2 linked regions of the Homo sapiens genome follow. The protein of the gene in region 2 interacts with the protein of the main gene of each other region in a pairwise test. Each region holds a gene or a part of one and is shown on either strand. Other genes may lie near its edges.

Region 1 (3,829 bases), on a different chromosome or scaffold from region 2:
AGCCCATGCTAATGGCCACATTTACAGGGGAGGGCAGCGAGCAAGGCTGCAAATCCCACACTGAGCACTGGGACCTTGCTGACAATGGGAATTAGAAGCCTCAGACAAATGGATCAATGCAACCCCCTATCAACAGAAACACCAGGGCTCAGGGTTTAGTAACACCAGTCATCATCTCTGTTCCAATGGACAGAATCAGTACATGTGATGCAGTGAGCATGATGAAATAGGACTCCTTGGTTTCCTTATTTACAACAGTCTCCAGCCTACCTTTGTAGGGCATCTGAGAACGAGTCTTCAGGTACATTTTGCTGCTTCTTTTGGCTCTGACTTTATTGATCTCATAGCCCAGATTGTTGCAGCGGTTCTTTCTACAACTCAAGCAGAGCCCTTTCTCAAAGGCTTCCTTGGAACTGCACCTGTAGGCCTTACTTGGATTTTCTTCATTCAACAGAGAGTCGATGAAGAGATGAATGGAGCGCTCGTGGGAGCACTTCACTAGCTGGTCCACATCTGGGTAAAAAAGAGACACCAAGATTGTATCTCGGCAGAAATTCACAAAGAGTGTTTCATTTGGCATGTCTAAAATAGGTGAGATGTGGTGTTAGAGTAGAATCACCCAAGGATATAGTCCTGTGCATTTATGATTGTAGGCCCTATTTCAGGAGATATTCTTGGTGGTAGCGGCCCACCCACCTTCAAGAGAGTGAAAGTTGCAAGTTCACAGGGAATTTTTGACTTTTGTGCTTCTTATATTTATGAGTATGTTTATGAAGCTGTAATAAGCCTCCAAGGTGGAGGTTGATTTCCTTGTTTATCTCATCCTTCTCTTACATTGAAAGTGTCTAACACTTCTAGGTGCTTCTAGAAACATATACCTGCCCCTTGCCTTACAATAAATTCTTCATAAGTCAAAAATACTGTAAGTCAAAATGCACTTAATACCCCCAAAACCCATCATAATGTCAAAAAGTTTTAAGTCAAACCATCACGTGCTTCTCAACTTAAAATGGTGTTACAGCCCAATTGTAAAGTTGGAAAACTGTAAGTTAGGGACAATTTGTATTTCTAGAAACCACATCTTAAGAGGGTAATTGTTAAATGAATTGTATTTTATCATTGATATTATGTACAATTGAGGGTTCTGCCCCTACTAACACTCTTTTATATCAAATGAACATAGAAATAATCAGCAATGCCATAAGAATGAATTCCTTGTAAGTTTTTAGGACAATCGAAAATAGTAACAATATGCTCTAAGTTCTATTACGTGCACAAAAATAACGAGAATATCCTAGGTAGGTCCCAATGTCTATAAAGTATGCAAGGGGCTCTTAAAAATAAATCGTAAACTGGGCGTGGTGGCTCACAGCTGCAATCCCAGAACTTTGGGAGGCTGAGGCAGGAGGATCACTTGAGGCCAGGAGTTTGAGACCAGCCTGGGCAACATTGCAAGTCCCTGTGATTGTGTGACTGCACCCCAGCTTGGGCAATAGAATAAGACTCTATCTCAAAAAACAAACAAACAAAAATCATAAATTTAACACAAGCTAACATTATTAAAGTAAAACATTAAGCTAACATTATGTTCTGAACATTTTGGAAGATTTATCCTAATTAACATCTTCTGTTCCAGTAACATCTAAAATCTTTCCATTGGCTTTGCAGCTACATTCAAGGTATGACAACATGTGGCCAGATAGCATTTTATGATGCCATTATTGAGGTCAGTGGAGTCTTCCTGTCTAAAATCCCACCTTTTTCTCTTGCTACTGTAAGTGCACTGCTCAGTGTAGCCTACAGTATAGTAAATAAAAGATAAAATGGCTGTCTGCCTGGCTCTAAGGTGGTCATGCTGAACATTGCAGAATTCTTCAGAAACATAATTTGGCCAAATGTGTATATGAAAACTACATACTTTGAAGCTACTGAGTAGGACATTGGGTCAATAAGGGTTAAGGATAAGAGTCACATTTAATTCGCTTCTAAATAATATTTACCTCCAAGTCCTCTCTCTGCAATCACGCGGATAGCTTCTCCAATGTTACATCCTGGCTGAAAAGTACCTCCATTCGGGTAAATGTCAACATGCCCAACTGGTTTCTGGATTCCAATGCTTCGACCAGGGGACCCTCTGGTGAATGTGTGTAAGACGTCTACAAAATCTGCATCATCAGGAGAAAGACGACTCGGGGCTTCTGCATACTCAAAGTTAGGTCCAGCTGGATCGAGGCCTTAAAAGGGAAAAAAGCAGGAACACAGATTTGTAAATTTCCATTCGTATGACATTCGCATGTCACTGCTCATCATTTGAATGCACTGGCAGCTATTTAGATTCTTATTAGCTCCTATTCTACAGTCATGGTATCTTTACTTAGAGAGACATAAAAGGAGGCTTGGCTCCTTCTAAAATGAATTTGAGTCTCTTAAACTAGCCTTATGCAGCAGTTTCCACTCAGGATGGCTGGATTTCCTTTTGTAGATTATTTCTGAATATGTCGAGAAGATGTATAAACAGTGGTGGGTTCTTTCTCTCTGTGTGTATGCCACACCTTTGCCTAGATGACGGTCTTCTTTCGAAGTGGCCTCTGGAATTGGTCCTTCTTCTTTTCTCCTAGTACTGATGTGCATTTACACTACTAAAACACAGAGCTGAGAGTGGGAGGAAACAGGCTTCCCAGAGAAATCTGCAGGCATTGTGTGTAATTATGCTTTATTTCTGTGCTATTGCCAGTGGATAGTAAGCCAGTGAGAGCGTCTGTGTTTTTTCTTATCCCTAATAAAGAGCCCTACAATGAGATAATCAAGTGCTGGTCATGTCTCCGGGAAGAACACCACACATGTGGGTATTTAACAAAATTTGTTCTGATTCTCTCTCAGAATGACAGTCTTTTCACCTCTTATGATAAGACCAACGAAATTGCTTTCTTACCAGTAATTCTGTTGACTTTCTTATTGGTCAGACTTCCTGCAATGCCAGCAGCATGGGCTCCAAGGCTGTATCCCAAGAGATGGACATTGTCCAGAGGGTAGTTAAACTCCTCCTTTGGAAGAAAAAGAAAATGAAGGTGCTTACAGTTCTGCCAAAAATAAAACTAAAAGAAACAAAATGAATATAAATATTGTTTTCCAAATATAGGAAATACTGAAAACTAATTCTACTTATTTTAATTTTGTGTTACAGGTAAGAGAGAGAAAATATTCTCTAGTGTTAAAATTGTCTTTTTCTTTTGTTTCACTTTTCCGTAAACAAATCCAGAATTGATTTTCTCTTTCTTTAATAGCAGATTTAAATTACAAAGTTTTTCCATGCATCTGAAATAGTATTATTTATGTATATAATATATGCATATGTTTGTATATGTATATGTATTTGCATATATAACCATATACTATACGTACAAACATATACACATATACATATGCGTATACATTTATATGCATGCATATATGTATATGTGTGTATGTTTGAATGTATAGTATATGGGTATATATTTTCCCATTATTCCTTACTCTAAATATCTGTATCACTTTATCATTGAAGGTTAGCCAAGCAATGACAGACTCAGGAAACATTCAGTGGAAGGGACCAGAGGTACATGGTCCAGCCCCTCATTTAACAGGTGAGAAGCCTGAGCCCCAGGGAGGTGATCCCGTTTGCCCATGTTCATTTGCCTGGTCAGCAAAAAAGACAAGAAAAGAACTTTTGTCTTTTATGATCAGTCTAATAAACACAGCTTATTTTTTACTTCCAATTACCTGGTTAAAATAATTTGCCTTGGTCAGAGTATCAGCTTCTTTCCAACCCCAAGATACTTTTCAGAGGTAC
Region 2 (3,829 bases):
CGCGCACATGCGCATACACCAGTGAAATGGGGGAGGCAGCGGGTAAAGGGAGGGAAAAAGAGAGAGAAAGAGGAAGGTGACTTAAGAATTCTTAAGTTTACCTTAAGCTTACTTTAGGATTTGATATTTATTTCTGATTCCATAGTGGATGCCAAGGGTGAGTAGGAACCATAAACTTTCTAATACTTACAGTCTCTAAAACAGTGGTTTTCCCAATCCTTTTCCCAACTTGGCAACAAAGAAAATAATAATTTCTTAGCACGTTGGGATAAGCCACAAATGCTATTCAAAGCCAAAAGAAACCATCCTGGGGCAGGGTGGGGAGGGGGATCTGATATGCCCAGGTCCCATTAAACAAGGGTATCTTGCTCTCCGAAACACTGGTAAACCATTCATGGCACACCAGTTGGGAAGCTCTATTTTAAAGGTCTTAAAATGATCCCACTCATTGCCCAAACACAAGGACCCTCACAAGACTTCATTTCCCACTGCAATCAACGCACATGCGCGCGCGCACACACACACACACACACAGATTCACACACAGGAACAGACAACCACACCCACCCAGACAGAGACAGACATATCCAACAAGACAACTTACATTTCTCCAAACACACCACACATTCTTTCATACTTTGACTTTTTCTATATGCTGTTCTCTCTACCCAGATCAATTCCAAATGATCCTCCAAGACCATATTCAAATGCCACTTCTTTTCCCCAGATCTTATTACACTGTCACTATGAATTGTTAATTGTTTGTTGACATGTGTTACCACCCTAGAATTTGAGCTCAAGGACAAGAATCATGTCTTATTTACCTTTATACCACTGCTCCCACTACAATGGGCATTTCAAATGTTTGCTTAACATATAAAGGAATGTTCATTACATCATCACCAAATAAATTTTCAAATTACATTAATTAAAACAATGAAATACAATTATAAAATTAGCATTTTTTTCTTCCCAAAACAAGAACAACCACTGTAGGTACTTCTGTAAGAGAGAGATCTGGCACAGAAATATTCATGACACTTGACCATTATCCCAGTCCTAGGGTTTTAAACTGAGGAAATAAACAAAAAACCGCTTAACAAAATGTAAATGTCTAAATCAGTTATGGTATATCACCTGAATGTTTAACTAATCACTTAAATTATATTCATTGACCTTGGTGGCTTTGGGTAGCTAAAATAAATAAATAATATTCATGAAGATGGGAATAGAAAAATGAAAAAATAATACCAACTATCACTGACTGATCATCTCTTGTATTTAAAGCACAGCGCTAGATGCCTTACATATAGTATCTTAATCCCCACAATTCAAGACCACCTGACTCAGAAATGAGACACTTTGCCCAAGGCTTTTGACGCTAGATTCCACACCAGATTTGACTCCTGACTCAGAAATCAGACAGTTTGCCCGAGGTTTTTGACGCTAGATTCCACACCAGATTTGACTCCAAAGTCTGTGATCTTTCCCCTACATTGCACAGCCTCCACCATACAATGTTCCCATTATATTCCTCTCAAAATTCTCTCTACCACACAACTTTATTTTTTAAATATGAACAATTACCTGGAAAGAAACAAAAAATAGCTATTATGGTGGTGATCAAGGGTAAACGTTGTTACAGTATTTATCCTTTTTAAAAATTAGCAACTTTTAAAAGTAGCATTGTTGAAAAATGAACTAAATTCATAAGACAATACAAAAGACGCTATTCCTATTTTAATTTTTTTAACCTAAGAAAATTAAGGAAACAGAGTAGGTAACATAAAAACTTAAGAAAAAAAAAAAGCTTAAGAAGATATTAAACTATATCTAAACAAGCATATATTAACCTTAGGGTACTTATTACCAGGATTCATTAACTGATCCTTGTGAGTGGATTAAGCAGCATTCTTCCAGAAACAGGTGAATTTTGAAAAAGGTTTAAAGAGGAGGCACATGAATTGGAGACAGAGATGTTTAAATTATGGAAACGAGGACAAAGGAAAAAACAAGACTATTTTCTTTTTAAGCACGAATGAGAAACAAGGTTAATGAGATGAAGTTGGTAGAAAGTCTTCAAGGTCAAGCAGGTAAATTTGGGATTAATTTGATAAGCACCGGGGAACTCCTATATATTTTTAAACGGGAAGGTGGCATGTTAAAATATGGCCTTTAAAGATTCAAACTTTGTTCCATCATAAAGTACTGCCTTGAGTTACACAATGTTTTTGCCGAACAGTTGGGGAGGTGGGGAATAATCCACTATCCTTTATGTGTGCTTTATACATACGCTTCTCAAAAAGAGAAACTGACTAAACAGAAATCTTTAGGTAATGGGTGAGCATATTGGGGAGGGGATCCTTTCAGACATAATGCTTGTGAATATTGAATGCTACTGTATGTTTTAATAACAGTCACAGAACTTCAGGCAAGAAGGAACCTTGGAGATAATCTCTTAGTGGCGACCCCTTCATTTTCACACCAGATTAGACTGAAGCCCAGAACTAAACAACTTGCCCAATGCCATGCATAAACCAGTGGAAGATTAAATACTACAACTCAGATTTTCTAAGCAGTCAGACCTAAAGCTATGCTCTCCAATACTATAGCTACTAGCCACATCTGGCTATAAATTTAAATTGATTTAAATTAAATACAATTTTAAATTGAGTTTCTCAGACACACTCGTCACATTTTAAGTGCTCCATAGCCACACATGATTAATGGCTACCATAACTAACAGTGCAAAAAATATTTCTATGATATTTGTCAATTATACTTCAATAAAGTTGAAGGAAAAAAGAATATTTCCATCATTGCAGAAAGTTTAATTGGACAGAACCGATCTAAAGAATAAGTTTTAGAGAATTCCACTTACTAGAAGTATGAGCCTAGACAAGTTATTTCATTTCCCTTAGCTTCTATTTGGCAGGGAGAGGACAGGGGATTAATAATACCTACCTCATAAAGCATACTTGGTGAGTGGGACAACATGAAAAGCCCCTTATACAGGATCTGACACTTAACAGACAATAAATATTAACACTCTTCCCCTCTGGGTCCTTTTTTCTTTCTACTACTCTATATAACCTCCTTGTTAAAAAATACAAACACAATAACCAACCCAAATTGATATTTTCCTCATGATAGTCTATACGATGTAATTTTCATTTTGTTCTTACTAATTAATTCAAATACTTGCATCTCTCTTCCAAAGTTTCTACTTAAGAATAATGAAATGAAGAATGAATGTGAGGGAAGATATCTCTAATGAAATGAAAGAGTCTAATAAATTTCCCCTCCTCTTTTTCCCCATTCATGCAAAAGATAAGAAATTATGCTGTTCCTAGACAATGGTACTTTCATATCAATAAAGAAGATTCTACGGTATTTCTACATTATATCCTATCTCATCATCTATACTACTCATTAAATATTAAATGAAGAGATAACACCTCCTTCCTACAGTGCTTTCCTGGCAAACAATAAAAAGGATTTTCAGAATGCTAAGCCAAACTTCAAGGCTTCACAGCTTATTCTAGTAAACTGGCAAATTTAACAAATCTGGATTATAGTACATAAAAAACTTCATAACATGCAATAACCCAGGAAAACAACAAAATTCAACTCAGTTAGTAAACTTCTACCAATAACTAAATTTTACATAGGAGCAACAATTCATATTTAGCCACAATAACCATTCCTAGGGAGTTGATCAATTTTGCATTCTAACTAAGAATTTAGGCAAAACTTTAAAACATTTGCCCCTAAACATACACCAAACAAGATTTCCACGTTTCTGGAAAACTTTTCTTGTTTAAAAGTG

Evidence for each region.
Region 1: the proteins of PTPN4 (region 2) and LPL interact in a two-hybrid assay, tested with the Homo sapiens proteins (one large-scale study listed by BioGRID and IntAct).

Annotation. Positions count from the first base shown.
Region 1 is NC_000008.11:19,952,525-19,956,353, reverse strand, and holds part of LPL (lipoprotein lipase precursor), read right to left. Parts: intron 3,045-3,829; coding exon 2,933-3,044; intron 2,235-2,932; coding exon 2,001-2,234; intron 514-2,000; coding exon 271-513; intron 1-270. UniProt on the Homo sapiens protein: Key enzyme in triglyceride metabolism.
Region 2 is NC_000002.12:119,762,620-119,766,448, reverse strand, and holds part of PTPN4 (tyrosine-protein phosphatase non-receptor type 4), read right to left. Parts: intron 1-3,829. UniProt on the Homo sapiens protein: Phosphatase that plays a role in immunity, learning, synaptic plasticity or cell homeostasis. Regulates neuronal cell homeostasis by protecting neurons against apoptosis.